Regions from separate parts of the Homo sapiens genome. Here regions 2, 3 and 4 are each linked to region 1. Evidence: fine-mapped expression QTL. A gene starts in region 1. Each other region holds a variant in brackets. All regions are shown on one strand. Distances are from middle to middle.

Region 1 (7,942 bases):
TGTCGCCCAGCTGGGAGTGCAGCGGTGTGATCTCGGCTCACTGCAACCTCTGCATCCCAGGTTCAAGCAATTCTCCTGCCTCGGCCTCCTGAACAGCTGGAACTACAAGCACGCGCCACCACGCCCAGTTACTTTTTGTATTTTTAGTACAGACAGGGTTTCACCATGTTGATTAGGCTGGTCTTGAACTCCTGACCTCAGGTGATCCACTGGCCTTGGCCTCCCAAAGTGCTGGGATTATAGGCGTGAACCACCACACCCACCTTAATGACTTTCTGATGCCCTCAGGAAAAAGGCAAAACTCTTTTCATATCAAGTGCAAGATCCTTCACACTCTGGTTCTTATCTGTGGTCTCATTTCTCCTTTCCTCACACTCTGACCAAACCAGACTGAACAACCTGTAATTCGTCAAACATATCAGGTGAGGCGTGAGTGTTCTATTCGGCTCCAGGTTCTGTGCATGCTGTTCCCTCCTGGCATGGTTCCTGCCACCTCTCCCCCAAATACAGGTAATCTCCTCAGGTCACAGCCTCTTTGACATCTTATTTATTTTTTTTGAGATGGAGTCTCGCTCTGTCGCCCAGGCTGGAGTGCAGTGGTGCGATCTCAGCTCACTGCAAGCTCTGCCTCCTGGGTTGATGCCATTCTCCTGCCTCAGCCTCCTGAGTAGCTGGGACTACAGGCACCCACCACCATGCCTGGCTAATTTTTTTTTTTAATTTTTAGGAGAGACGGGGTTTCACCATGTTAGCCAGGATGGTCTCAATCTCCCGACCTCGTGATCCGCCTGCCTTGGCCTCCCAAAGTGCTGGGATTACAGGCATGAGCCACTGTGACCGGCAAATAATTTTTAAAGCTAATATTTTTATAAGTAGTTACAATGCACCAGATACTGCCTATATATATAACTAATTTAATCCTCACAACCTTATGAGGTAGATACTAGCATTTCTATTCTACACTTGAGGAAACAGGCACAGATAAGTGGAAGTGACTCACCCAAGGTCCTACCAAACTGTTGAGTAGCAGAACCCTGCCAATTTGGCATTAGTGGCCGGCTATTTAATCATGACTCCACGCTACCTTTCAAATAAAAGCAGATGGTAAGGAAAGGACAGCTGTGAGGACTGAACCATTAAGCACATTCCCCTAACAGAGAAAGGGAATTGCAAAGGTGGCAGAACAAACACAGTAACAGATGAGTTTTAAGGTGGAATTAAAAAAAAAACTTTAGGCCGGGCGCCATGTCTCACGCCTGTTATCTCAGCACTTTGGGAGGCCGAGGCGGGTAGATCATTTGAGGTCGGAAGTTGGAGACCAGCCTGGCAAACATGGTGAAACCCCGTCTCTACCAAAGATACAAAAAATTAGCTGGGTGTGGTGGCACGCACCTGTGGTCCCAGGTACTCATGGTGCGGCCACCATTGCATCTTGGGCCTCACTAACCAGTTCCCGTTTGTTGGATTCAATACTCTCTCACCACACAGGCCAATCTTGTGTTTTATTAATTTTTTTAATTTTTTTTTTTTTTTTGTAGAGAGGGGCTCACTATGTTGCCCAGGCTGGTCCTGAACTCCTGAGGTAGGAGGATCGCTTGAGCCTGGGAGACAGAGGTTGCAGTGAGCCGAGATTATGCTACTGCACTCCTGCCTGGGTGACACAGTGAGACTCTGTCTTAAACAAAACAAAACAAAGAAAGGCCAGGCGCAGGGGCTCACACCTGTAATCCTAGCACTTTGGGAGGCCAAGGTGGGTGGATTATTTGAGGTCAGGAGTTTGAGACCAGCCTGATCAGCATGGTGAAACCCCGTCTCTACTAAAAACAGAAAAATTAGCCAGGTGTCGTGGCTTGCACCTGTAGTCCCAGCTACTCAGGAGGCTGAGACAGGAAAATTGCTTCAACCAGGGAGATGGAGGCTGCAGTGGGCAGATTCGCGCCACTGCCTGGGTGACACAGTGAGACTCCATCTCAAAAAAGCCCAGGGTGCTTGGCGCCAAAAAAGGGATCTCTGACCTTGTGTTCATTATGACCTTCAAAAGAGTGAAGTGGTGAGGGCATGAGGGCAGAGGAAAAGAAGGGCTTAAGACAACGAAGGAAAAGAAGGCACCAGAGTCTAGTGCCTTTGCCGCCAAACCTAAACCTATAAGGTTGGCAGCAAAACCAAAGCACAAACTGATAACAAAGGAGGTAAAGCCAGGGGAGAAGAAACTGAAGACGTCAAAGACAGAAATGAAGCACATCATCTGGTTTAAAACAAATGATAGAGTTTTTACAGTTCTGGAAAATGACCGTATAATATTCTCTGCTAAGAAGAATAACTTCTGCTAAACAACCATAAGACTGCAGCTGGCTCTACTCAGATCTGCTTATTCCAACAAGACCAAGGTGCTAGTTCTAACTTCGAGTTGTCCCTCTGTATGGCTGCAGCGTTGCGCACAGTGGACTGCCGGTCACAAGGAAGACTGGATGAGCGTGGGTTCACACAACATTTCCCACACTTGCCTCAGCAAAAGAACCACCTGGGACACTTGTTTAAAAATGACAGATTCCCACGGTCCACCTCGGCAGATTCTGATCCTGCCACTCCAGGGAGCTGTATTTTTCAACAAGTACACCAGGTGATCACGCAAGTTTAAGAAATTAACACAAGTTGGCCGAGCGCAGTGGCTCACGCCTGTAATCCCAGCACTTTGGGAGGCTGAGGCGGGAGAATCACGAGGTCAGGAGTTCGAGACCAGCCTGGCCAACATAGTGAAACCCCGTCTCTACTAAAAACACAAAAATTAGCCGGGCGTGGTGGCGCACACCTGTATTCCCAGCTACTTGGGAGGCTGAGGCAGGAGAATTGCTTGAACCCAGGAGGCAGAGGTTGCAGTGAGCCGAGATCGCGCCACTGCACTCCCGCCTGGGCGACAGAGTGAAACTCTGTCTCGGAAAAAAGAAAAAAAAAGAAAAAAGAAATTAACACAAGTCCCTGCCACTGGAAAAGCTTATCCGTCAGGCTGGCTCCTCCTCCACCACCAGACCCCATCCCGGTACATCACGTTTACATGCATGCGGAAAATGGGCTTGGAGATTCTTGATTCAAATCCGAGGTATCACACATCGGCCCCCAAAGGTCAAACATTAAGAAGGAAGCTTACTGCCCTGTCCCAGATTTTTCTAGGTGACTTCTTCCTCCGGACTCTGCAGCAGTCTTTAGTTCTAAAAGCACAAGCGGACCGCACGTCTCAACGCGGGAAAACAGTTCCATCTGCAGGGATGGAGGACCGGGCTAGACAAGCTGGAGTTGGCTCTGCGCCGCAGGGGTGTGCAAGCCCGAGACGGGGGAGCCCGAGGTCACCCCGGCCGCCCTGGCATCGGGGCTGAAGTGCAGGCTCCTGGAGGAGCGGTGCGCACGCCCAGGGGTAGCCGAGAACACAAGCCAAGGCACGAGCGGACAACCTTACGGGGACGAGTACTGGCGCCCGGACGCGACTTCGCGAGAGGCCAGGCGGAACCCACTGGAAGCGTGAGCTAGCGGGGACCACCCCCGGGCGAAACCAAAGGAGAAAGAGGGGAACCCAGGGGTCCCGGGGCGCTTAGGCCCGCGCGGACGGGGAGGCCAGAGTTGCCCCGAAGCTATCTCCTTACCTCACCGGTCCCCACGGGCTCCGCGCTCAGCTACAGCCCGGCGGGAGCAATGCGGCAGCCACAACAGTTGCCTGGGGTCGCCGCGGGCCGGAAAGCGGGGTTCGGGGATGGGAAGGGGGCGGGGCGAAGCGAGCAAAAAGTTCCGGGGAAGCCGAGACCGCGACCTTCCGCGCTTTACGGCCCCCGGGCAAGGGTACTGCCGGCGCGTGACCTCAGCAGCGCACGAGCGCGCCGTGACGCCTTCGCGGAGCCCCGCCCCTGCCACGTGGGCTTGTTTGGGTCTCGCGAGGCACCGCCCCCGCGGCCTCTTTGCCACCCTCAGAGGCGAGCTGTGGAAGCCTTGACTCTTAGGGCCGTTTTAGAACCGGGGCCTCGGACCGGCGGGGTTTCTGCACGTGGAACCGGAACATCTGAGATGATCGCAGGCCCTGTGGAGTGTGGGGAGCGCGGGAGTTCTTTCTTCCCTCGAGGCCCGTGCCAGGGCTTACTCCAAAGCCAGTGGGTCCCCAGTCCTAAGCCAAGCAGTCCCGGGGGAAAACGCTTCTCATCGCCGTGGGAGCGCGGATCTTGGAAGTGGCTCTGGGCTTTCTTGGGCGAGGCTCTCACAGAGTAGATCGGAAATCCATTCTGCTGGCCCGCCCCACCTCGGAGGACGGACTAACGGACCTGAGTTCCCGGCCCTATCTTACTCTTCTCAGCTTCTCAGCTTGGCTCAGCTCAGAGGAAGAGGAATCACTGAAGTCTCAGAGAAGTCTCCACTCATCCCTTCCTCACTGTCACATCAGCCTTTTCTTTCCTTCTAGAACTCATCACTGACTCAAGGATATAAGTTTGATGACTGTCTTTTCCACTGGTGTGACACGATCTCTGTCGACAGAACCTTAGTCTTATGCATAGCTTTATTCTCAGCACCCAGAACAGTGCCTGGCACCTCTTCCACTGAATATTATATGCATAAGGGTCTCATGCTGCAGCCACCATTGCATCTTGGGCCACACTATCCAGTTCCCGTTTGTTGGATTCAATACTGTCTCACCACACAAACCAATCTTGTGTTTTATTAATTTAAAAAAAATTTTTTTTTTGTAGAGATAGGCTCACTATGTTGCCTAGGCTGGGCCTGAACTCCTGGCCTCAAGTGATCCTTCCATCTCAGCCTCCCAAAGTCCTGGGATTACAGGCGTGAGCCACTGTGCCTGCCCCAATCTTGTGTTTTATTGCTGGCCACCTGTAGCCAGGCACTGTGCAGGATGATGGGATCCAGCAATGTACAAGAAAGAGGCGGTTTCTGCTCTTAGGGAGTGGCAGTCAAGTTCCAGGGACCCCTCTGTCACAAGGCCAGGCCACAGCCTACATAGTTTATACCCCATTTACTGGCCAGTCAAATCACACAAAGACAGCCCAGATGAGGTCTGCCAGACAGTGGACTGAAACTATGCCATAGGCTCCTGTGCTAGATAAATACTTCCATATTTTAGCTAGGATTGAATGCTTGGGGACACCTACCTGTCTAAAAAAAGAGAAAACGGCTGACCAATTTGAGACATTCTCGGGGAAGGCTTTCCTGATGCCCAGATGTGGCGATTTCATGAAAAATATCACAGGTTTTCCTCATGAACCATTTGGTTCAAGCCATTTCCAGGCACATGAATTTGGGAGAAACCTGGTTGTCTGCAGGAGATGGTGGATGAAATCAAGTGAAATACTTAATGTGTTGATTTCATTCTGTTTACGTGCAGTAAATAGCAAACAAATGGTGTAGATCTGTCCCTGATTTCCTTCTCCATCACCATGATCGGCCTCCACTCCAAAATGCTAAGTCAGGCTGGGTGCGGTGGCTCATGCCTGTAATGCCAGCACTTTGGGAGGCCAAGGCAGTTGGATCACGTGAGGTCAGAAGTTCGAGACCAGCCTGATCAATATGGTGAAACCCCATCTCTACTAAAAAATACAAAAATTAGCTGGGCGTGGTGGCACATGCCTGTAATCCCAGCTACTTTGGGAGGCTGGGACAGGAGAATTGCTTAAACCCAGGAGGCGGAGGTTGCAGTGAGCCAAGATTGTGTCACTGCACTCTAGCCTAGGCGACAGAGCGAGACTGTCTCAAAAAAAAAAAAAAAAGGGAAGTAAGTCCTAAGGCCCCTTTCATTGTCAAAGATGGGTCTTGTCCTTAGTAGGTTCTCATAACCACTGATGCACTATTTTTTCTAGGGGATTGAGTGTTTTTATTTTATTATTATTTTTTAGATGGAGGCTCACTCTGTTGCCCAGGCTGGAGTGCAATGGTGTGGTCTCGGTTCACTGCAACCTCTGCCTCCCAGGTTCAGGGGATTCTCCTACCTCAGCCTCCCCAGTAGCTGGGACTGTACAGGCGTGCGCCACCACGCTGGGCTAATTTTTGTATTTTTATTAGAGACAGGGTTTCGCTATGTTGGCCAGGCTGGTCTCAAACTCCTGACCTCGTGATCTGCCCACCTAGGCCTCCCAAAGTGCTGGAATTACAGGCGTGAGCCACCGCGTCCAGCCTATTTTTATTTTTTGAGATTAGCTCTCACCCTGTCACCCAGGCTGGAGCACAGTGGTGCAATCACGGCTCACTGCAGTCTTAACTTCCTGGGCTCTAGCGATTCTCCCACCTCAGCCTCCCGAATAGCTGAGACCTCAGGCGCGTGCCACCGTCCCCAGCTAACTTTTGTATTTTTTGGTAGAGGTGGGGTTTCACTATGTTGCTGAGGCTGGCATTAAACTCCTGACCTCAAGAGATCCACCTGCCTTGGCCTCCCAATGTGCTGGGATTAGAGGCATGAGCCACCATGTCTTGCCCTAAACAGACGTTTTAATTACGCTTGTCAAGTCCTCTTGTGAAATCTTCATCTGCAGTGACTTGGTAAATGTATTTGCTACCACACAGGATAAACAGTGTACAGACAAACATTTGACATACCTATGTTACCACAGTGTAAGAATGAATTTGGATCTGAGGTCGCTAAGATGCAGGCGTTTATCTTACCTCCCTGCAGCACCGGCATGGCTGTGGGGAAGGCCTCCCTCCTCCCTCTGAAGTTCTTGTCCCCATCAGTAGACTGGACATCTGCCTACAACCGACTTCACAGAAAGGACCTGACACCTGGCATGCTTCTCGTGTGCTTGAGAGCCTGTGTTTGTGTGGAAAGCAGGGATGTTCTCATTCACACCATGGGAAGAGAAGAATGTTGCGAGTAGCAATCAGTACTCTTTTTTTTTTTTTTTTTTTTTTTTTTTTTGTGAGACGGAGTCTTGCTTTGTCACCCAGGCTGGAGTACAGTGGCGCGATCTCAGCTCACTGCAAGCTCTGCCTCCCGGGTTCACGCCATTCTCCTGCATCAGCCTCCTGAGCAGCTGGGACTACAGGCACATGCCACCATGCCCAGCTAATTTTTGTATTTTTAGTAGAGACGGGGTTTCACCATGTTGGCCAGGATGGTCTCGATCTCTTGATCCACTGCGCCCAGCCAGGAACTTCTTTTTTTTTTTTTTTTTTGAGACGGAGTCTTACTGTGTCGCCAGGCTAGACTGCTGTGGTGCGATCTCGGCTCACTGCAACCTCCAACTCCCTGGTTCAAGGGATTCTCCTGCCTCTGCCTCCTGAGCAGCTGGGATTACAGGCGTGTGCCACCACACCCAGCTAAATTTTGTATTTTTAATAGAGATGGGGTTTCACTATGTTGGCCAGGATGGTCTCGATCTCCTGACCTTGTGATCCGCTCGCCTCGGCCTCCCAGAGTGTTGGGATTACAGGCGTGAGCCACTACACCCGGCCTGGAACTTCTCTCTCTTTTTTTTTTTTTTGAGACGGAGTCTCGCTCAGTCACCCAGGCTGGAGTGCAGTGGCACCATCTCGGCTCGCTGCAAGCTCCGTCTCCTGGGTTCACGCCATTCTCCTGCCTCAGCCTCCCGAGTAGCTGGGGCTACAGGCGCCCACCACTATGCCCGGCTAATTTTTTTGTATTTTTAGTAGAGATGGGGTTTCACCATGTTGGCCAGGCTGGTCTTGAACTCCTGACCTCAAGTGATCCGCCTGCCTTGGCCTCCCAAAGTGCTGGGATTAGAGGCATAAGCCACCACACCCAGCCTCACTAGTTTTATTATCCACTGACTCGACTTGCTTGAGACGATTTTACTATGGTGGTTATCAAATGGTAACTTTCTAATTCTGTAATTCCTTCTGTGTTTATTAGCTCAAGGTCTATGGGATGCAGTGTTGATAGGGTTCTGTCTACTTCACTTGCCTCTGTTCCCAGGGCCTAGCTCTCCAAGTCTTTCAACTG
Region 2 (7,324 bases), 42 kb before region 1:
GACACCGGTGGTCAGGAAGTTATGCTGCCCTCTCCTCTTGAACAGCTAAGATGCTTGGACACTAGACAGAGGCAAAGCAGTTATGCCAGAAGCAGGGGAGAGTCATTCACTGTCAGATCTGTCTGTTCAAAGAGCTCACATTAGACCAATCACAGAAAACCACCAGACTCACACAGCTTGTATTTGAATGAACCAGGAGAGACTTCAAGGATCAACTCTAAAGTGCTAGAAGAGAAATCTGTGTTTGGGGCACTGAATAAACAAGTGATGTCCTAGAAGATCAACACCCCATCAGTCTTAGGAGTATGACCCTATTCATGGACAAGGGGTTTCAATGGACAGCCTGAGTGCTCAGCCCCCCATCCTCCTCTCCTAGCAAGACAAGCAGTCTGTTGCTCAGAGGGGGAAACTGATGTCATTTAACAGGAGGTCAGGATTTCTGGTTCTACTTCAACAAACAGTGCATAATTTTGGACACAGCATCAGATTTCCTGACTTCTTACAAAGGACAGCTAATTAAAAACGTGTCAATCTGTAGTAATTAGTTGGAGATTAACAAGGGCAGAAGAGAATCCAAGTCTTAAAACTCTATGTGGGATACATTTCTGATGAAGCTTCTATTTGACTAATATACTGTGATGATGGCACTATTCGATTTTAAACTATGGAGACAGCTTTTATTATTTCGATTTGGATCCTGGTAAGTGGTGATACTGCTATGTAACAGTTAAAGCACAAATGTATTGCCATAGTTAAGGTTGAAGAGTTATGTCTATGTGTAACTAAATTCTTCTGGATTCAATTACAAATACGTTTTCCTTTACAAAGATGGCTTTGGAGGGGTGCAAATGCTACGTGTTTGGAAGAGCAGAGGAGGCCTGCAGCTCTCAGTCACCTGTCTCCATCTTCGGAGGTAAGTCTGCTCCCTGCTGGTAATGCCTGCATCTGCCCAAGGGCCTGTTCCTCCTCTCCCAAGGCCTTCACAGCTGGTGTTCACTGGTTGGCCCTCCAGCCGGCAACACCTCTCCTCCTCTCTGCCTAGAGGCAGCATCTCTCGGCTAGTTAAGTACATACTTGCTCCAAGACAACTAGACCCCCAAACAGAATTCTAATCATATGCTCCTCTAACAAGCCAACCAGAACCTTCCAAAAAGGTTTAGGCACTAAAGTCAGTAATCACTAGGAGTGGTCTAGTTGGGGAAGTGGCAAGAAATGTCTAGAAGGAGCCAGCGTAAGTGGGTAAACAGAGATCCCAAAGAAACACCAGAGAAGGCAGACACCTGAGCATTTTAAGCTGCTCTAATGAAATGGAAGGATGTCCCTTAATACACTTATAGACCTATCAGAGCTAATGCTTCCAAGATACCAACACGCCAAAGGCTAGAGTTTTACTAACCAAAATGTCTTATAGCAGTTTATTTGCACTTAAAAAAAGTCAGATTAGGGCAGTTGATATGCAAGGGGAAAATGAAGCATTGAGGCTGGACAACAGTCCATGATATCTAAGTTTCACCTTGGGAAAACAGAGACACTGCCTGAAAGCGCAGGGCACTTCTGGGCACCCACATTGTCTCCTGCTCCAGAGGATATGGAAGGGTGGGTGGAGGGAAACAAAGAGCCTGGGGGGAAAGGAGGAAAAGCGGTCTCTAGCCTTATGCAACGTACACCCTTTGGACTCAGAACTCTCAGTGGACTAACGTGGGTCACCTCTGTGTAGCTCTGCTCTGTGCTGGAGAGTCAAACCTGGAATTCCGGCAGCTCTCTGGAACTCAGCACAGCCCGCAAGGTTGAAAGGCCCAGGACAACACACCTGATCCCTTCCCCTCCCTATTCTAAAGGGAGAGAAACATGACTTTATGGGCCAACTGTGAAAGGGACAAGTGAGGCTGACCTGACAAAGTCAAACGCACTGGGAGAAGGGGAAGGAGGAACGGCTGAACTTTGGACAGCTGAGAGAAAAGCAGCATTGTTTCCATAGCAGAACACTCAGCATCACTGGTGGGGACTTTCTAAGGTCAGACCCTTTTGACTGGGAAAAGCAACACACAAGGCAATATGGTTTTTCCCTTTCAAACACTGTGGCTTACTTGTTTACTCAACTAAGAAAGAAAAAGCAACCTTATTATAGAGATTAGCAAGAGATGAAGAAAATTATAGGGAGGCTGCCCTGGCCCAAAGGTCTGCTAATGGCTTCTGCAGGGAGGATGAGGATGGTGCTAGGTTAACTGCTTGTCTCCACTACAGACCAGAGAACGTCCATGCGATGCCTCTTATCAGTGAGGTAGATAATCATCCTCTTGCCAGAGGTATCGAGTGCCAGCCCACAGCACAGCAGAACAGGAGAACGAGCTGCCGGGCTGCAGGCACGAGCTGCCCCTCAGGGCTGCATCCGACACA[C/T]GGCAACCCCACCAGAACTAATAGGCTGCTCCAAGAAAATGGAACCCAAGGGAGAGGGACTCGTGCCCTGAGACCTGCACCACCCCGGCTTGCCCTGCCTTGAGATGCAGAATTTGAAAGCAGCTGTCACCATCACTCATGTCCACAGTGGAGCTTGCTTCTGTCCTGTCAGACATACCTCCTGCCACCACGAGAAGCTGAGTGAGGGGTGGGAAGGGAAGAAGAGCCCAGAGTGAATATTAGGAGGAGGAGGTGGAAGGGCAAGGAAGGCTGCAGAGCAAAAAAGTTTAAAGTAGGTCAAGTTCAAAATTATATCAAGGAGATAAGAGATGGGAGGCAAAGGCTCCAGAAGAGGAACAGAGGCGGAAGGAAGAGAAGCTCCAAGGTGACGCCCACTCTAGGACAAGATGATGGGGAGGAGGTGAGGCTGCCCTGGTGGCATCACTTCCCATGTAAGTCACTCAGCTCCATGTCATCCTTTCGGCGCTTCTGGGTGAAGAGGGAGGCGACAGGGTAGAGCTTGGCCTTGGCCTGGAAGCGGTATCCCGCGATGTCAATCTCATACTCTCCCCGGTTGATGAAATCTGCTGTCACCACTTGCTCTTCCCCCGTGTCCTCAGAAAAATTGTGCACAAAGCCCAGGCAAACGTGGCGCTCCAGGCTGTAGCTGTAGGCACTGCTGGTGGTCTTGCCAACATACTGCCCATTCCGGTAAATGGGCTCTCCCCACCAAGGCCAAAGGTCTAGGTCTGAATCATGGTCGTCCAGGATGAACATGGTGAGGCGTTTATACACTCCATTCTGCTTCTGCTGCAGGAGGGCGTCGCGACCAATGAAATCCATGCCCTAAGAAAGAAAGGAAACGCCGAGTCATCCAGCGACACTCAGACCCTCGGCACAGAGAGCAGCACCGTGGGAAGGGTCCCCTGGTGTCACTGCAATGGGGCACAGCCGCCTCCTCCCACAACCCTGCCAGCTTTTGGGAAACTGTGCGATTTCTACCATGTGAAAAACTGCATGTGAAATATAAAAGACGCCGCGGTAATTTTTGTAACAACAGAGGTACGCATTTTGTTTCCTATTTTATAAACATAAAGTCACAAGACCAGATAGAACAAAAACGTTTAGGAAGAAAACTCACTCACTTAATAAAATACCTTATCAGTCCAGTACTTTAGAAAAATGTTTTTATATTGGCCAGTCGTGGTGGCTCACGCCTTGAACAGAGATGAGGCAAACCTCATCTCTACTAAAAATACAAAAATAAGCTGGGTGTGGTGGAGTGTGCCTATAGTTCTAGCTACTTGGGAGGCTGAGACAGGAAAATCACTTGAACCTGGGAGGCAGAGGCTGCAGTGAGCCAAGATTCTGGTGGAGTGTGCCTATAATTCTAGGGAGACTGAGACAGGAAAATCGTTTGAACCTGGGTGGCAGAGGCTGCAGTGAGCCAAGATTGCACCACTGCAGTCCAGCCTCGGTTGACACAGCAAAACTCTGTCTCAAAAAAAAAAAAAAAAAGACTTTTTTATATAATCCCAACAAGACCATGCACATCTATATTCAATGCATACACACATATATACACATATGTACAACAAATAAGACTAGAATAAACTATTAACGGTGATTATGGCCAGGCACGGTGGCTCACGCCTGTAATCCCAGCACTTTGGGAGGCTAAGGCGGGGGGATCTCCTGAGGTCAGGAGTTCGAGACCAGCCTGACCAACCTGGAGAAACCCCATCTCTACTAAAAAAAGAAAAAATACAAAAATGCCTTCTCATGCTCAAGTGATTCTCCCACTTCAGCCTCCCAAGTAGCTGGGCCCACAGATGCGCCACCACACCCACCTAATTTTTTGTATTTTGGTAAAGACAAAAAATACAAAATTAGCTGGATGGCTTACAGCTACTCGGGAGACTGAGGCAGGAGAATCGCTTGAAGCCAGGAGGCAGAGATTGCAGTGAGCTGAGATCGCGCCACTGCACTCCAGCCTGGACAACAAGAACGAAACTCCGTCTCAAGAAAGAAAAAAAAAATAGTTACTACCATTAAATAGACAAAATATGGGTGATTTTAATTTCCTTCTTTATATTTTCCAAAATGGGTTATTACCTTTTTTTTTTTTGGAGATGGAGCCTTGCTCTGTCACCCAGGTGGGAGTACAATGGTATGATCTCGGCTCACTGCAACCTCTGCCTCCCAGGTTCAGGCAATTCTCCTGCCTCAGCCTACCGAGTAGCTGGGATTACAGGTGCCTGCCACCATGCCCAGCTAATTTTTATATTTTTAGCAGATACGGGGTTTCACCATGTTGGCCGGGCTGGTCTCGAACTTGTGAACTCAGGTGATCCGCCCAAAACAAAAAAACCAAAAAAATTAGGCCGGGTGTGCTGTCTCACGCCTGTAATCCCAGCACTCTGGGAGGCCGAGGAGGGCGGATCACCTGAGCTCAGGAGTTCGAGACCACCCTGGCCAATGTGGTGAAACTCTGTCTTTACCAAAATACAAAAAAATTAGCTGGGCATGGTTGTGCATCTGTGGTCCCAGCCACTTGGGAGGCTGAAGTGGGAGGATCACTTGAGCATGAGAGGGCATTGCAGTGAGCCAACATCGCGCCACTGCACTCCAACCTGGGTGACAGAATGAGACCCCACCTCAAAATCAAAAACAAAAGAAAAAAACCACAAAAATTAGGCAGCTGACTATAGGACGACTAGTTTGTACAAATATTCGTGGCATGTTAATGCATCACCATAATTAACTCAGAATAGCTTCCCAGAAAGCACTCAGTCTTTTAGACAGCAGAACACTAGAAATAAGTGGGTTTTTTTGTTTGTTTTTCAATTGTAATTCAGAGACAAGGTCTTGCTGTATTGCCCAGGCTGAGCTCAAGTGATCCTCCTGCCTTGGCCTCCCAAAGTGCTAGGATTACAGTTGTGAGCCACCGCACCTGACCAAGTGTCATCTATTTACTATGTTTTCTTTTTTCTGAGACGGAGTCTTGCCCTGTCACACAGGCTGGAGTGCAGTGGTGCGATTTTGGCTCACTGCAACCTCTGCCTGTTAGGTTCAAGTGATTCTCCTGCCTCAGCCTCCCGAGTAGCTGGAACTACAGGTGCTGGCCACCACGCCCAGCTACTTTTTGTAAATTTTTTTTTTTTTGAGACGGAGTCTCGCTCTGTCGCCCAGGCTGGAGTGCAGTGGCGTGATCTCGGCTCACTGCAACCTCTGCCTCCTGGGTTCACGCCATTCTCCTGACTATAGGCGCCCGCAACCACACCCGGCTAATTTTTTGTATTTTTAGTAGAGACGGGGTTTCACTGTGTTAGCTAGGATGATCTCGATCTCCTGAACTTGTGATCCGCCCGCCTTGGCCTCCCAAAGTGTTGGGATTACAGGTGTGAGCCACCGTGCCCGGCCTACTTTTTGTATTTTTAGTAGAGACGGGTTTTGCCATGTTGGCCAGGCTGGTCTCGAACTCCTGACCTCAGGTGATCCACCCGCCTCAGCCTCCCAAAGTGCTGGGATTCAGGCGTGAGCCACCATTATTATGTTTTCATTTGAAGATATTTTATCCTATAAAGTTTTCATTCTCAGGGCACTCTTGTCCTCATTTACCTGATGCTAACATCAAGGCCTCAATCTTTTCCCCCTTTTCCTGTCACATCAGTTCTTCTTCCTAGTCTAGTGCAGATTCACTACTCGGGATGCTGAGTGAAAGTGGAGTCTGGGTAAACACAGTACCTTCTCTAATTTCACCCGAGACTCTCGTCCACATTCCAGGGGCGTGGTGAGGTTATTTATATCCTGACCCCAGAAGGCAAAAAACTTCTCAATTCGGAGACTGCGAAGAGCGTAATACCCAGCATTCCGGATTCCGTATTTCTGGCCAACACTCATCACTTCATTGTATACATGCAGGGCGTACTATAGGAAGAGACAGAAAGTTCATAAGCAGCAGACCTTCAGAATTAAGCATGGAGCATGTCTGGAAGCGCTGATGGCTCACACTATTAACATGGACAAGAGAGGAGGCGTATAAAACTCCCAGGATGTCTCATCCTTGACACGCTCAGGGCACAGCCCAGGAGTGATGAGCTGGGGTCACCCCAGCCTGGACTTAAGCTCCATGACAACAGGATCCATGTCTTTTCACCTCTCTAAAATGTCTTGTGTGGTGATTCTAGCTTACAGCAATTCTTAAATAATAATTTATAGAAGCTCTCTCACCATTTGGTAAATGGCCAATCTCATCATCATTTCTAAAACAGCCCACCAACCCTCCATGGTCTTCATCTGATTCTGGCTTTGTTCTTTTGCTCCAATTTCCCAACCACTGTTACTCCCTCACGTACTGGCCCAAGCTGTGAGGCCCAGCTCTCACACGTTACTCGAGACGTGTGCACACATCGGATGACGGCGGGGGAGCCAGGAAGGCAGGGCTCGCCTGCTCATGTCCCACAGCATTCAGGCTCTCAAGCTGCTCTTTTCTTGGTTTCAGAAACATGTACGTTATCAGATCAGTGAACAGAAGGTTTTCCAAACTGAAAGCAAATATTCAATCCCTGTCTGAACATACGCTGTTAAGTTTAAAGTCCAACAAAAATGAGACTACACTGTTTGCTTTTAAAACTGTAAAATGAAATCCAAAGCAAGACGTAGCAAAGAACCAGCTTCAGTGGTACTGCAGTTCTTTATCCTAGCACAGTATGTTTCTATGAACTGCACCACTGTAGCTGAACAGGCATCTACCAAACAGACCACTATGATCAAGACAACTTTATTTACTTATTTATTTTTGAGACAGAGTTTTGCTCTTTTGCCCAGGCTAGAGTGAAGTGGCGCGATCTCGGCTCACTGCCATCTCCACTCCCGGGTTCAAGTGAATCTCCTGCCTCAGCCTCCCGAGTAGCTGGTACTATAG
Region 3 (7,942 bases), 140 kb after region 1:
ACGCCCATTGGAGTGTTGTTTTTAACCTCTGTACAATGTTTAGACCCAGTAAATGCAGAAATAGAAACAAATGGTCAGAAGACATATCGTGAGAGAGAGAGAGAGAGTTCACAAAACAGAAAACAAAGTACCTTAATATTTACCAGTGACCAAAAGATGTGAAGCAGCAAAAGGTCTCCTGACCCCATTGCCAGCTAGACTGTGTAGAAACTCGGTTCATACCAGCCATTCTAGGGGTGGGGTGAGTTGTTGTCATCCTTAGGAAAGTGTGTTGTTGTAGGATCAACCACATCCTTCAAAAGGACTATGCCTGTTTATAAGCCCAGCTGTTTCTGCCCTGTGAAACACGGTAAGGATATTAATACAAAGAGAATACAGCTTTATGATAAAAGATGCTCAGTGAAGGATGAATTAGGGATATACTGAGAATGGGGAAGGAAACTATCATCTCAGAAGTCAGCAGGCAGTAAGCAAGAGGAGGAATCAATATAGCAACAGTTTGGATCAGACTGTACAGTTTTTTTTTGTTTTTCTGAGATGGAGTCTCGCTGTGTCACCCAGGCTGGAGTGCAATGACGTGATCCTGGCTCACTGCAACCTCCGCCTCCCAGGTTCAAGTGATTCCCCTGCCTCAGCCTCCCGAGTAGCTGGGATTACAGGTGCCTGCCACCACGCCCGGCTAATTTTTTGTATTTTTAGTAGAGACGGGGTTTCACCGTATTAGCCAGGATGGTCTCAATCTCCTGACCTCGTGATCCATCTGCCTCGCCCTCCCAGAGTGCTGGGACTACAGGCGTCAGCCACCGCGACCAGCTCAGACTGTACTCTTATAGCCCTCTGAAATACGTTTTCTAGGTAGAGATAGATTGTGTAAGGGTACAGTTATGAGGATAACAGAAACGTGGCAGATTATTTAAAATCATCCTGAAAGTGGTGCTTTATCTGATGAAAGTGATTGTAATCCATAGGAAAATGTTTCAACGTGCGCAAGAGTTGCGGTGGCGGGCAGAGGACTACCACAAATGCAAAGTAAGGAGCTTCCTCCCCGCAGTTGCAGGATAGTTCAGTGCTGATGCAGATGATGCCACCGCCCTTAGACTCTCTCAACATTCAATTTCTCATGTGTTGGCTTTTTCAGATCACCCCCTCTGCAAGAAAGCCTCTTTGCAACTGGGTAAGTTTGTTTGTTTTCCTTGCTTTTGGACAGTCTGCCAGGTCAGGACATGGATACATTTTTCTCCCTACAGCTCTGTGCTCAAGCCCTGCAGAGGGAGATGGCAGAGAGGAAGGCTGCCTACAAGCATCACAGTCCCATCCCTGTTGGTAACCGTGTTGTGCAAAAACACCTTCATCCCCACCCAGTGGGGCCCCTGATCTAATATTCAAAGTGTCAGAGGTTCCATATTTGTAATAGCAAATGGGCCCTGACTGTAAATTAGTGAAGAGTGAATGTAACTTATTACCCACAGGGACAATTCCAAATGAAGGCCTTAAATGATGCTCAGCTAAGCTGGTTCTTGTGTGGCCTCTGTACCTTCAAAAGCTGCCGAGTCCTATGATTACACGTGATGGGACTTGTACACTTGAAGTGAAACAGTTTTAAAACTTGCTTTGTTTAGAATTCCCACCTCATTTTTCCATGGACAAAAGTATTCTTTATGTCCTAGTGCACTTACAATTTGGTATTACCTGGGAGTGAAAAGAAATATTACAGCCATGCCTAACTGACTTCTTGAGGTAAGATTGTTCTGTCAGAAAACCCTCTCCCAGTTCCCCTGCAGCTCTTCAGGAATCCACATCTCTGCAGAGCTCTTTGTTCTCATGGGTGGCACCTCCAGAGTGAAGAAGATCCTTTATCAAGAAGGGAAACAGGGGAAATGAGAGGGTCCTGCAGGCAGAGCTGGAATCAACTTCCACTCTGCCTCTTGCAAGCTGTGTGACCCCGGGCACAATTTCTCCTTCCTCTGGAAACCTCTGTTTTCTTAGATTTGGAGCAGGGTGGTCACACTGACCTTGCAGAGTTCCGAGAATCAGAGACAGAACATAAAAGGCCTGGAAAACATTCTCCAAAAAGAAGCTGCAACATGTGTGGACAATGGGCTTTTCATGCCTCTCTTACTGTCTGTTGACCTGGTGCAAGAAACATGCTCTGGTGATGGCTGTGAGGGAGGAATGAGGATAGACATAGACACTCCTGTGTCTCAAACATGCCTCTTTATTACTCTGTTATGACTCTGTCTTCCCTGGGGCAGGACCCCAGCCTGCCTACATTTGCAGACAGACACAGTGGCATGTGGAGACAACAGTGTGTCCCAATGACTTTTCTTTACTCCCCAGCTGTCGGCAGTACTCAGTGGAAGGGTGATATTATGACACTGATACTGCTATTTTGAAACCTGGAGGATGGAAAGGTGCAAAAATCTATCACCAGCAACAGAAGGTGCAGACCGTGTTGGTGGCGGTAATTTTGTCCATCAAATGAATATGTGTGAAAACATTCCCTTCTTCGGCCCTACAGGTCAGAATGGCGGCAGCGGAGCATCGTCATTCTTCAGGATTGCCCTACTGGCCCTACCTCACAGCTGAAACTTTAAAAAACAGGATGGGCCGCCAGCCACCTCCTCCAACTCAACAACATTCTATAACTGATAACTCCCTGAGCCTCAAGACACCTCCCGAATGTCTTCTTATTCCCCTTCCACCCTCTCCTCTTCCACCCTCCGTGGATGATAATCTCAAGACTCCTCCCTTAGCTACTCAGGAGGCCGAGGCAGAAAAATCACTGAAACCCAAGAGGCAGAGGTTGAGTAAGCTGAGAACAGGTCATTGCACTCAAGCCTGGGCAATAAGAAGAAATCTGTGAGTGGAACAAAAGAAAAAAATCAAAAAACAAAACAAAACCCACACTCCAAAAACAAACTAACAAAGAATAAATAAATAATATAAAAATAAAATAAATACTGCAGTCCTTATGTTATTGCTTTGTTTCAATATCGGTATGATTGCCTGAGGGACCTGAGGTTTTTAATTGTAGGGGTTTTTTTTAGTCTTTAGAAGTGGTTGGTTATGTAAAATATTATTATTATTTTTTGAGACTGGGTTTTGCTCTGTCAGCCAGGCTGGAGTGCAGTGGCTCAATCACAGCTCACTGCATCCTCAACCTCCTGGGCTTCAAGCAATCCTGCCTCAGCCTCCCAAGTAGCTGGGATCACAGATGTGTGCCACCATGCCTGGCCAATGTTAAAAAATCCTTTAACTTTTTTGTAGAGATGCACTCCTGGACTCAAGCGATCCTCCTACTGGTCCCGACCACCAGCCTCTTTCTGATAAACATTTACACTGTTTATTATCTGATGCCATTTCTATCTTCTTCCTTGTCGTCCAGACATCAAAGAATTAGGTTTCTTCAGGGTTTTCTTTTTCAAGTCTTCATTGTTAAAGATCACTCACATTAGGGCCAGACACCACGACTCATGCCTGTAATCCCAGCACTTTGGGAGGCCGAGGCGGGCAGAGCACTTGAGGTGGGGAGTTTGAGACCAGCCCGGCCAACTTGGTGAAACCCCACCTCTACTGAAAAACATACAAAAATTAGCTGGGCGTGATGGTGCATGCCTGTAGTCCCAGCCACTTGGGAGGCTGAGGCATGAGAATCGCTTGAACCCAGGAGGCAGAGGTTGTAGTGAGCCAAGATCACATCAGCACACTCTAGCCTGGGTGACAGAGCGAGACTCTGACTCAAAAAATAAATAAAATAAATATCACTTACATTAGATATACCCAAGGGGTGGTCTATAGAGAGTTGGAAGCAGTGGTTATTGCAACAGGGGCACGGAAGTCATCTGGCTATGCCAGGATGCCCAGGGGATACTCGGGGTGGGTGGCATGGTGGTGCTGGGGACTCACCGCACAGGACGCTCTGATTGACGCACTGCCAGGAGTAGCGCTCTGTCTTGGGGCTGCAGCCGGCCTCCTCAGCTCCAGTGTAACAACAGTCGTGGCCATGGCAGCACCTGCGGATGTCACATGGGCAGGACAGCAGGTGGGTGAAGCTCTCTCCTGGCCCTCCTCTGCTGCCAGGACCATGGGTGACTGAAGACCCCCAGGGAGGCACAGCATCCTCTAAGATTTTTTTTTTTTT[T/CTTT]TTTTTTTTTTTTAAGAGACAGACAGGGTCTTTCTCTGTCGCCCAGGCTGGAGTGCACAGGCACAATCATAGCTCACGGCAGCCTTGAACTCCTGGGCTCAAGCGATCCTCCCACTTCAGTGTCCCAAGTAGCTGAGACTACAGGCACACGCCAGCATGCCCGGCTGGTTTTTTAATTTGTATTTCCTTTGAGACAGCGTATCTCTCTGTCGCTCAGGCTGGAGTGCAATGGCTCAATCAATCAGCTCACTTTAGCCTTGAACTCCCGGGCTCAAGTGATACTGCCACCTCAACCTCCCAAGTATGCTACTACAGGAACACAAACTCCTTTTTTAAATTTTTTGTGGATATGGGGTCTCACTATGTTGCCTAGGCTTGTCTCGAACTCCCAGGCTCAAGCAGTCCTCCTACCTCAGCCTCCCCAAATGCTGGGATTACAGGTGGGAGCTACTGTACGCCTGGCCTTATCTAAGCTGTTTCCCTGAAAATGCCCGTCTTGGGTAATGATTCCATTGGCCCCACCATGCCCTGTCCTGCCTTCCTGGCTGTGCCCAAGCTTGGTCCCTGCCTGCCTGCCTGCCTGCCTCACTCTCTCTCTGGGTCTCGAGCTCCTGTGACACGTGACTCCTCTCTCTTCCTGGAGTGATCCAAGCCCTGCCACTTCCTGACTTTGCCCACACTGTACCCTCTGCCTGGGGCAACTTCATGTCTGCCCATTGTCCCTTAGGCCTCAGCCCAGGCACAAGCCCCTGCCTGCGGAGGTCATCCAGGCCTCACCAGGCTACACCCTCTCGTAAAATTGGATTCCCTCCCTTCAGGGCAGGTTTATAATGAAACCCTCCTCAGAGGCCAGCTGCGGTGACACCCATCTGTAATCCCAGCACTTTGGGAGGCTGAGGTGGGAGGATCACTTGAGGCCACGGGTTCGAGACCAGCCTGGGCAACATAAGAGAGACTCTTGTCTCTCTTGTCTCTATAACAAATTTAAAAATTAGCTCCCCAGGCCAGGCTCAGTGGCTCATGCCTGTAATCCCAACACTTTGAGAGGCCGAGGCAGGTGGATCACGAGGTCAGGAGTTCGAGAGCAGCCTGACCAACATGGCGAAACCCTGTCTCTACTAAAAATACAAAATTAGCCAGGCATGCTGGCACGCACCTGTAATCCCAGCTACTCGGGAGGCTGAGGCAGGAGAATCGCTTGAACCCAGGAGGTGGAGGTTGCGGTGAGCCAAGATCACGCCATTGCAGTCCAGCCTGAGCAACAGAGCAAGACTCTGTCTCGAGAAAATAAAAACACACAAAAAATTAACTCGCCATGATGGCACATGCCTATAGTCCTAGCTACTTGGGAGGCTGAGGTGGGAGGATTCCCTTCAGCCCAGGAGTTTGAGGCTGCAGTAAGCCACTATGATTGTGCCACTGCACTCTAACCTGGGCAAAAGCGAGACCCCAGGCCAGAGTGCATGATTTTGGGTCACTGCAACCTCCACCTCCCAGGTTCGAGTGATTCTCCTGCCTCAGCCTCTTGAGTAGCTGGGACTACAGGCATGTGCCACCACGCCTGGGTAATTTTTGTATTTTTAGTAGAGACAGGGTTTAGTAGAGACCATGGTGAAACCCCGTCTCTATTAAACAAATCTCTACTAACCCCATCTCTACAAAAAACAGCTGGGCATGGTAGTGCACACCTGTAATTCCAGCTACTTGGGAGGCTGAGGCACGAGAATCATTTGCATCTTGGAGGCAGAGTTTGCAGTGAGCTGAGATCGCACCACTGCACTCCAGCCGGGATGACAGAGCAAGACCCTGTCTCAAAAAAAAAAGAAAAAGGAACAAACAACAGCAACAACAACAACAAAACCTCTGTGTCAATCACAGCCTTCGAGCTAGGGGAGAGGCGGCCGAATTCTGCCCTCTGCTGACGAGCTATAGCTTTGTGGAGATGGGTGAGTGGCATGCCCTTGTGAGCCTCAGGGCCCCATCTGTAAAATGGGCCTAACTGTCATGCCCGTCTTTAAGAACAGCCTTGGGGGTAAATGAGTGGAAGTCATGGAAAGATCTCAGCCCACAACCTGCCACAGAACAGGCGCTTCTCACACAGTAAGTAGCAGGAGTGCAGAGGCTGCAGGCATGAATCCAGCCAGACTGCCTGGGTTCAAGTCCCAGCTCCCACGTCTTGGTAACTAAGTGGCCTCAGACAAGTTACTTAGTATTTCTTTTTTCTTTTTTTTTTTTTTTTTTTTCCAGACGGAGTTTTGCTCTGTCACCCAGGCTGGAGTGCAGTAGTGTGATCTCGGCTCACTGCAACCTCCGCCTCCTGGGTTCAAGCAATTCTCCTGCCTCAGCTTCCTGAGTAGCTGGAATTACAGGCACCTGCCACCACACCCAGCTAATTTTTGTATTTTTAGTAGAGACAGGGTTTCACCGTGTTAGCCAGGATGGTCTCGATCTCCTGACCTCGTGATCCGCCTACCTCGGCCTCCCGAAATGCTGGGATTACAGGCATGAGCCACTGCACCCGGGCGACCTGTTTCATTCTGCTTTCTTCCCATCTGGCTACTGACCTCCCCTGTCCTGGTGTCATCTGCTGTCATTCATGATGACCCTGCTCATTAGCTGCCCTACCTGTGCTCCATGCACTCAGCTGTGGCGATGCAGGAGGAAGTCCACCTGGGGAGTCCACTCCTGAGCCAGGAGTCCAGAGCAAGCATCTCCAGCCCGCTTCCAGGTGCTTGGCCCCGTGATGGTTCATTCATTTATTCTCCAGACCCCTACTGAGCACCTGCCTCATGCCCAGCCCTGAGCAGACAGCAGTGAGCAGGTTCCCACCCTCACTCTCTGGTGTAGAGCTGTCCTCTCTGGTAGCAAGTGCTGAGAGACGGGCCCAAAACCAACGGTACCTCCATCAGGTGATCTGGCCGCGGGAAGCACAGGGGTGGCATCACCTGACTTCCCAGCCCTCCTTGAAGCTGACTCTTGCCTTTAAACCCATGGAGCTTTCCTTCTCTTTTTCTTGTTCTCTTTCTCTTTCTTTTTCTTTTTTTTTCTTTTTCTTTCTTTCTCTTTTTCTTTTTGTCTTTTTTGTCTTTCAAGAAATTGAGGCCAGGCATGGTGACTCACGCCTGTAATCCTAGCACTTTGGGAGGCCGAGGTGGGTGGATCACCTGAGGTCAGGAGTTCAAGACCAGCCTCACCAACATGGAGAAACTCCATCTCTACTAAAGAAAAAACAACAACAACAAACACAGCTAGCATGGTGGGAGATCACATCATTGCACTCCAGCTTGGATTTCAGAGTGCGACTCCTCAAAAAAAAAAAAAAAAAAAAAAAAGCCAGCCGGGCACAGTGGCTCACGCCTGTAATCTCAGCACTTTGGGAGGCCAAGGTGGGTGGATCACCTGAGGTCAGGAGGTCGAAACCAGCCCGACCAATGTGATGAAACCCCATCTCTACTAAAAATACAAAAACTAGCCAGGCATGGTGGCGTGCACCTGTAGTCCCAGCTACTCAGGAGGCTGAGACAGGAGAATCGCTTGAACAAGGAGGCGGAGGTTGCAGTGAGCTGAGACGGTGCTATTGCACTCCAGCCTGGGCAACACGAGTGAAACTCCATCTCCCAAAAACAAACAAACAAAACAAACAAGCCACGTGATCTGAGACTCAGCCTACAAGTGCTGGCTTTGTCAGTCCCATGTTCTGACCAGGGCCTCATTGACCATTGCATTCCATGCGGGGTGAAGCTAGTAGAGAGCGGCCTTGTGCGAAGGCAGTAAGGCCTGGAGCTGGGTGCCCTGAGTATC
Region 4 (7,942 bases), 65 kb before region 1:
TCTGCCCGTGTAGCCAGGGGGACAGTGGCAGTGGCAGGTGCTGATGTTGAGACGTCCATGGTTCTGGCAGCTCATGCGACAAGGATTCCTGGGGACCTCTGGTCAGAGGAGGAGGGGACTCTGAGAAAAGGGTCTCCTCCCAGCAGGCCGGGCAGGAGCCTCCCTGGGTGCTAAGGGCCAGGGCTTCTGGGACAGCCCAGTAGGATGCTACCACCCCCACCCCAGGGTCACCAGACTGAGCCCTCATGCACTCACCACAGAGCCCCCCTGCATGGTCCCAGGCTTTGAAGCAGCCTGAGACACTGGCTGTGCAGAGCGAACACCAGGCACCCTTCTTATAGGGGACGATTGTCTTCCCGTTGACCTCCCAGTTGCCTCTGTGAGGACGAGCAGGCACCACAGGGTGTGGGAGGGCCTGGCCTTGGGCAAGGCAGAGGCAGGGCCCTGCTGCCTGCCCCCCTGGCCCCTTCAGCTCCTGCGGCCAGGCCAGGGAGTCAGGGAGCTGGGTGAGATAGGGAGATTCCCTGGGAGAGAAGAGATGGCCTCCAAACCAATCCTGGACAAACTCCCTGATACCAGGACCAGTATCCAGGAAGGGACATCCGCAGAGCAGCACCTTCTGCGTGGCCAGAATCTTTAGCACCCTCTGCCTTTCCTCTCCTCCCCTCTCCCACCAAGGGTGCAGAGCAAGGCATCAGGGACTCTACTTTCGGGTGGATGTGTGGGAATCTCACCCTCGGTGAAAGCACCCCTCCCTGTCTCCCAGACATCCCAGCAGAGGGTGTAGCAGGGCTTACCTGGGGGAGTAGGCACAGACAAAGGCTTCTATCGCTGCCTGGCCTGCAGAGCACAGGTGCCGCCCACAGCCCAGCTGGCTTGAGGTGGCCCACACGAGCTACAGGAGACACAGGGGATCAGAAACCCTATTGTGAACCACCCCTGGGGAGGGGGACACAGCTTTCGCTATCATCCAGGTGAACAGAGGGCTCCCTTACCTCCTCGAGGGCTCAGGAGCAGCAGCTGTCCTGGGCAGGGGTAGAAGCATGGGTGGGAATAGTTCAGGAAGGCTTATTTATTTATTTATTTATTTATTTATTTATTTATTTTTGAGATGGAGTTTTGCTCTTGTTGCCCAGGCTGGAGTGCAATGGCCTGATCTTGGCTCACCACAACCTCTACCTCCTGGGTTCATGTGATTCTCCTGCCTCAGCCTCCCGAGTAGCTAGGATTACAGGCCCGGTTAATTTTTTTGTATTTTTAGTAGCGACAGGGCTTCTCCATGTTGGTCAGGCTGGTCTTGAACTCCCAACCTCAGGTGAACTGCTTGCCTCGGCCTCCCAAAGTGCTGGGATTATAGGTGTGAGCCACCGTGCCCGGCCTAGGAAGGCTTTCTTAGTTGAGAGGGGGATGGAGAGGGGAGGTACCTGAAATGAGGGGAGATTGTTGATGGGTGGAGGGGAGTAGCCAAAAAAAGACTGGAACATCAAGGGCCTTGTGACTGCATGGTGACCACAACCATTCATTTCTTGCACCAGGCCACTCCTTTAAATGTGACTCTGCAGCTTTTTGCAGCAAAGAGAGGTGTCTCTTTCCTTGCTCCTTGAATCTGGCTGGCTCTGTAACTGGTTTGGCCACCAGAATGCCACAGAAGTGATACTGAGCCGATTTTGAACCTAGGCCTTAAGAGACCTTGCCATTTCCACTCATTCTCATAGAACCATGCTCAGTCACCACATGAACAAACTCAGTATAGGAGTTTGGAAGGCCTCATGGAACAGAGATGAACCATTAGAGGCCTTTTTGCACAGCCAGCTCCCAGCCGGCCCCCTAGTTGATTGCAGGTGTATGAGTGGGCCCAGCCAAGACCAGAAAACCTCCCTGCTGAGCCCAACCCAAGTGGCTGACCTGCAGAATCGTAAGCTGCTAAATTTTGGGGTAGTATGTCATGCAATAAAACCTAATGGATACAGGTCTGCAAACCAGTTTAAAGTCTTAGAATCAGCAACAGCTTGGAAATAGCACAAATGGGCAATATATAAGAAGAGTGAAACAAACTCTCCAGTAGAGACTAAAAATGACATGTACAAGACTGGCTTGTAGCAGGCAGATGTGAACATGTGATCATATACATGTATCCAACACTTAAAGAATATGTATCGTTTTTAGGAATGCATGGGACTTTTGCAAACCAGAAAGGAGGACCATACATTAGACCACTAAGCAAGTTTCAACAAATAGCAAAGAATCAGCACATCCTACAGCCCACATTCTATGAATTCAATGCAATGAAATTTAAAGTAAATAATTTACAAGTAAATAGAGAAGATAACATAGTTTAGAAACTTAAAGATACACTTCAAAATCTAAAACAACATCATGGCCAGGTGTGGTGGTTCACATCTGTAATCCCAGCACTTTGGGAGGCTGAGTTGGGTGGATCATGTGAGTTCAGAAGTTCAAGATCAGCCTGGCCAACATGGCAAAACCCCATCTCTATTACAAATACAAAAAATTAGCCAGGCATGGTGGCACACACCTGTAGTCCCAGCTACTCCGGACCTGAGGTGAGAAGATCACCTGAGCCCAGGAAATTGAGGCTGCAGTGAGCTGAGATTGCACCACTGCACTCCAGCCTGGGCGACAGAGCCAGACCATGTCTCAAAACAAACAAAAACAACATCATGATTGGAAATAGAAAAAACATCAAAACTTATTGGATGCAGCTGAAATCGTTTAAAGGGAAATTTATAGCTTTAAATGTATATAGTAGAAACAAAAAATGATTTAAAATTAATGATCTAAACATTCACATCAAGAAAATTAGAAACAATAATAGAGGCTGGGCGTGGTGGCTCAAGCCTGTAATCCCAACAGTTTGGGAGGCCGAGGCAGGTGGATTACCTGACGTCAGGAGTACTAAAAATACAAAAATTAGCCAGGTGTGGTGGCAGGCGCCTGTAATCCCAGCTACTCAGGAGGCTGACGCAGGAGAATCTCTTGAACTGGGGAGGCGGAGGTTGTAGTGAGCTGTGATCGCACCACTGCACTCTGGCCTGGGCAACAGAGCAAGACTCTGAATCGAAAAAACAAAAACAAAAACAAAACAAACAAAAAACAACCACCAACAACAAAACAGAGTTAGGTTTTTCACACCTTTGAGTCTGACAAAACTTAAGGAGCCAAGGCTGGGCACAGTGGCTCACACCTGTAATCCCAGCACTCTGGGAGGCCGAGGCAGGCGGATCATGAGGTCAGGAGATCAAGACCACCCTGGCTAATACGGTGAAACCCTGTCTCTACTAAACAAAATACAAAAAAATAACCGGGTGTGGTGGCGTGTGCCTGCAGTCCCAGCTACTAGGGAGGCTGAGGCAGGAGAATGGTGTGAACCCAGGAGGCGGAGCTTGCAGTGAGCCGAGATCGCGCCACTGCACAGTAGCCTGCGCGACAGAGCAAGACTCCGTCTCAAAAAAAAAAAAAAAAATTAAGGAGCCAGAAGATCTTCGGGAAGTGGGAACTGGTTTGCTGGTCTGCACAGTTGGCGTAAGCACTTTGGCAGCACCTAGTTGTAGGGGCACATGTTCTTCTTTTTACTAAGCCAGGGTTTTACTCCTGCTGCCCAGGCTGGAGTGCAATGGCGCAGTCTCAGCTCACTGCAATCTTCACCTCCCAGGCTCCAGCAATTCTCCTACCTCAGCCTCCCAAGTAGCTGGAACTACAGGCGCACACCATCACACCTGGGTAATTTATGTATTTTTTTGTAGAGGCAGGTTTTTTCCATGTGGCCCAGGCTGGTCTCGAACTCCCGGGCTCAGGCAATCCTGCCACCTTGGCCTCCCAAAGTGCTGGGATTACGGGCGTGAGCCACCGCACCCAGCCTTGTGTAATATTTAAACATGCACAACCCACTTGCACAGGTAGTGGAGGTATTAAATATTTCCTGGGATTTTGCTTGTGTTTTTCAGTGCATCTGAAGAGCACCAGGTGTGTGTAGAAGACCCTCAACAAATATTTGTTGAATGAAGAGAAAAAATGGAAACTTGCTTGGCAGTGATGCTCCTGAACTTTGGGAAGATTCCCTCCAGGGAGGGACAGCGGGAAAAGGGGAGGAGCAGGGCTTTAGTTTAGTAGCATCTTCTAAACCTAGGTAGTGGGTAAGAGTGGGGCCGTTTTAAATTTACGTTTGAGGCTGGGTGCGGTGTCTCACACGTGTAATCCCAGCACTTTGGGAGGCCCACGCAGGTGGATCACTTGAGGTCAGGAGTTTGAGACCCAGCCTGGCCAACATGGTGAAACCCTATCTCTACTAAAAATACAAAAATTAGTGGGGTGTGGTGGCTCGTGCCTGTAGTCCTAGCTACTTGGGAGGCTGAGGCAGGACAGTCACCTGAATCTGGGAGGCAGAGGTTCTAGTGAACCGAGATCAAGCCATTGCACTCCATCCTGGGTGACAGAACAAGACTTCGTCTCAAATAAATAAATAAATACGTTTATGTTTGAAATTATTTATATTTCAGATTGAAAAAAAGTGGCTTAGGCCAGGCATGGTGGCTCACGCCTGTAACCCCAGCACTTTGGGAGGCTGAGGCAGGCAGATCATTTGAGGTCAGGAGTTCGAGACCAGCCTGGCCAACATGGTGAAACCCTGTCTCTACTAAAAATACAAAAAAATGAGCTGGGTGTAGAGGCGCACACCTGTAATCCCAGCTACTTGTGAGGCTGAGGCACAAGAATCGCTTGAATCTAGGAGACGGAGGTTGCAGTAAGCTGAGATCACGCCACTGCACTCCAGCCTGGGGTGACAGACTGAGACCATGTCTCCAAAAAAAGAAAAAATGTGGCGGGGCACAGTGGCTCACGCCTGTAATCCCAGCACTTTGGGAGGCTGAGGTGGGTGGATCACTTGAGGCCAGGAGTTCAAGACCAACCTGGCCAACATGGTAAAACCCTATCTCTACTAAAAGTATAAAGCCATTAGCCAGGCCTGGTGGCACATGCCTGTAGTCCCAGCTAGTCAGGAGGCTGAAGTACAAGAATCACTTGAGTCCAGGAGGCGGAGGTTGCAGTGAGCCGAGATCACGCCACTGCACTCTAGCCTGCGCAACACAGCAAGACTCCGTATCAAAAAAAAAAAAAGTAAAACTAAACCAATTGGAGGAAAAGGAATCCCAACATTTAGGACAAACTGTAGCCTCTTCTGAGATGGACCAGTGGAAGTCTGTATCTGGGAGCTGGCACGCTGGCCTCACCTGCAGCACACTCACCTGCGTGTAGTGGGTGCAGGTGGCGTTGCGAGCACACTCTCCTGCCGCGTGGCTGTACCGCTGCCCCTCTGCAAACCATAGGCTGACCACTTCAACAAAGGACGCCAAGCCCGCGGGCAGCAGCTGCATGTTCCAGCCCACTTGCAGGGTGCGCCACAGGCCGGA[C/T]GCCAGGCTCGGGGTTGGGATTCCACAGAGGGCTGCCCTGGCTTGAGCCAGTTGGGCCAGGCTGTCACTCCAGTCCTGGGGGCAGCACAAACAGACATCTGTGGGAGGCCTTTGACTGCTGGGCCAGGCCTCAAAGATTCAACTCCCCTGCCATCTCTGAGCATCCACCGGGTGCCAGGTCAGGTGGCAAAGAGAGCACTGGATGAGGAGTCCTGCTGGAGGAAGCACTGGTGTTGTCTGATGTCCCTCCAGGAGGAGCCCAGCTCCTCTCACGACTGAGCCTCCATCTCCAAATCCTGTCGTGGGCATCCTTCGGCCCTGCCCAGGCAGTGGGACCCGCTCCTGCTGTCTTTCTCCCATCTGGTCATGTGAGCAGTGCCCACGCGTTGCAGACTGGTTCTGTGTTTGGGCCCTGGCCATTGTCAGAAAGGCTCCACTGCTCCCACCCGGCCATGCTGCCCTCCTGTGATGCAAAAAGCCCTACAGCCACGCCTCTCTGCCCTAGTCTCCTGCCCCCAGGAGCCTGGCCTCATATGCTCCCCACCACGCACAGCTGACCCCGCCCCCTCCCTCTTCTTTTTTTTTTTGAGACAGAGTCTCACCCTGTCGCCCAGGCTGGAGTGCAGTGGAGAAATCCCGGCTTACTGCAACCTCCGCCTCCCAGGTTCAAGCAATTCTCCTGCCTCAGCCTCCCAAGCAGCTGGGATTACAGCCATGTGACACCACACCTGGCTAATTTTTGTATTTTTAGTAGAGACGGGGTTTCACCATGTTGGCCATTGCTGGTCTCAAACTGCTGACCTTAGGTGATCTGCTTGTGTCAGCCTCCCAGAGTGCTGGGATTACAGGTGTGAGCCACCGTGCCCAGCCCCCTCCCTCTTCTTAAACAAGTGGGCCTGGCAATCACCACCCCTGGGTGACTTGGTGCAGTCCCCTGATCTCCCGAGACTCCCTGAGCTCATCTGTAAACGGAGCAGGGAGGTGCCTGCAGGATAGGACTCACAAGCACTGAGTGGATGCAGGGAGGGGGGCCCCTCGGGGCTGCACCCCAAGCCAACTTCATCCTGCACTAATGTCCATCGGGGTTTTACCTCTGATGAAGGCTGGGGCCAGGAGCTGGGGGCTCCCCGGGGTCCCTCAGCAGCCCTCCACCCCCACAAGACCTTCAGTCTCCACTGTGTCCAAAGAAGGGGTGCCCTGGAGCCCTAGAGGCCCGGAGGGTGCTCGGGGCCGGGCCACGAGGGAGGCTGAGCCATGGAGCTCCATTTGCACCTTTATGGAAATGAAGTTTTCTAAGACTTTGACAAAAGGGCCCTGGAAAGGGTGCCAGCTGCCAGCCAACGACCACCGCAGCCCCTCCTGGGGTCCCAGGCAGGAGTACCCAACCACGGAGGTCACAGCTGGGAGCACCCCTGGTTGCCCAGGGTCTGAGCCTGAGGAGAGGCAGAGCCACTCAGGGCTGGGAATGGGGGAGAAGCGACCCCCCGCATTTAGCCACCCCACCCCCACCTCCTGGGAAACTGACCCTAGAGTGCTCAAGGTCGCCACTGTGGCCACCTGCCTTGGAGGAGTTCATGGGAAGCAGCCATGGGGAACCCTCCCGCCCCCACCACCCTGCCCTGGCTCCCTGGCCTGCTAACATGGGCTGGGGCTGCTGGGGTCCCAGACAATGGAGGGCAGCGTTTCTGAGCCTCCAGATGACAGTCCCAACCCCGCAGCCCCAGCCGGGCTGGTGGGGAACTCTATACCCCCGACCCCCGGCCCCTGCTGAAAATGTGGAAAATGTGGACGAGTGAGTGAGCAGAGAACATGGGCAAGGCCCGTCCTCGTGGCTCAGATAAGCTCAGGAGGAGGCGCTGGGTCCTTGCCGCACAGAAGCCCCTCCCCAGCCCAGCACGACCTTCTCCCTCCCTGGCCCGGCCGCCCATCCTGCAGGGCTCCTCGTGAAGCTCCCCTTCCCTGGAGGAGGGGATCCGGCTCCTCCTGTGGCTCCTGGTCTCTGTGGCAACAAGATGCCAGGGAAGGCCCAAGGTCCTGCCCTTCAGGCGAGTGGGAGCCAAGGGGCCCGACCTCCTGAACTGAGGGTGGGGGGTTAAGAAACTGCAGAGACCCCCAGCAACCAGGGCCTCCGTCCCTCAGGGGCAAGGTGGCTGGCTGTGCCTGCCCACCCTGGTCAAGTGGAAGGGCACCTGGACAGGCGTGGCCTCCTGAGCCGCCCTCTGGGGTCCGCGCCTCCGGCCACCCCCCTGGCAGAGCCCAGCTGGGTCGGGTACTCACCAGCCTCCGCATGTCAGCCGCAGGGGGCTGGACCCAGCTGCGCAGGCGGTTGTGCAGGGAGAGGAGCAAGAAACTCTCCTTCCTGTTCAGGGCTGGGGTGGAGAGAGAAGGTCAGGCAGCCCGAGGATGGGGGGACCTGAACCCAACACACGGCAGAATAAGCATGTGTCCCTGCCCTTGGAAAACAAGATGGGAGAGGAGTGTGGTGGGTGCAGGGGACGTGGGGCATAGCAATG

The links. PIP is the estimated chance that this variant, and not a neighbour inherited with it, causes the effect.
Region 2: its variant is fine-mapped to the expression of PDPR in lung (GTEx, PIP above 0.99). The same link has a PIP of 0.9 or more in breast, esophagus mucosa, fibroblasts, subcutaneous fat, sun-exposed skin and thyroid.
Region 3: its variant is fine-mapped to the expression of PDPR in whole blood (INTERVAL, PIP above 0.99).
Region 4: its variant is fine-mapped to the expression of PDPR in whole blood (GTEx, PIP above 0.99). The same link has a PIP of 0.9 or more in sun-exposed skin.

Annotation. Positions count from the first base shown.
Region 1 is chr16:70,110,134-70,118,075 of GRCh38, reverse strand. It overlaps PDPR (pyruvate dehydrogenase phosphatase regulatory subunit), which reads right to left and starts at 3,744. Exons shown (of 19, transcript NM_017990.5): 1 at 3,636-3,744; 2 at 3,146-3,255. RefSeq lists enhancers at 2,268-3,210, 3,731-3,780.
Region 2 is chr16:70,152,394-70,159,717 of GRCh38, reverse strand. It overlaps PDPR (pyruvate dehydrogenase phosphatase regulatory subunit), which reads right to left. Exons shown (of 19, transcript NM_017990.5): 18 at 6,145-6,327; 19 at 1-3,243. The coding sequence ends at 2,839. LOC400541 (a long non-coding RNA gene) reads left to right here. Exons shown (of 3, transcript NR_126007.1): 2 at 829-913; 3 at 3,214-3,378. Among named protein-coding and RNA genes, the nearest start is that of CLEC18C, 18 kb to the left of the region's middle. The variant C/T (reference allele first, on the strand shown) is at 2,398.
Region 3 is chr16:69,971,309-69,979,250 of GRCh38, reverse strand. It overlaps the pseudogene PDXDC2P-NPIPB14P and the pseudogene NPIPB14P. Among named protein-coding and RNA genes, the nearest start is that of CLEC18A, 24 kb to the right of the region's middle. RefSeq lists an enhancer at 6,285-6,785. The variant T/CTTT (reference allele first, on the strand shown) is at 4,142.
Region 4 is chr16:70,174,803-70,182,744 of GRCh38, reverse strand. It overlaps CLEC18C (C-type lectin domain family 18 member C), which reads right to left. Exons shown (of 13, transcript NM_173619.4): 3 at 7,707-7,798; 4 at 5,265-5,504; 5 at 798-895; 6 at 256-377; 7 at 1-98. Among named protein-coding and RNA genes, the nearest start is that of CLEC18C, 5.0 kb to the right of the region's middle. The variant C/T (reference allele first, on the strand shown) is at 5,430.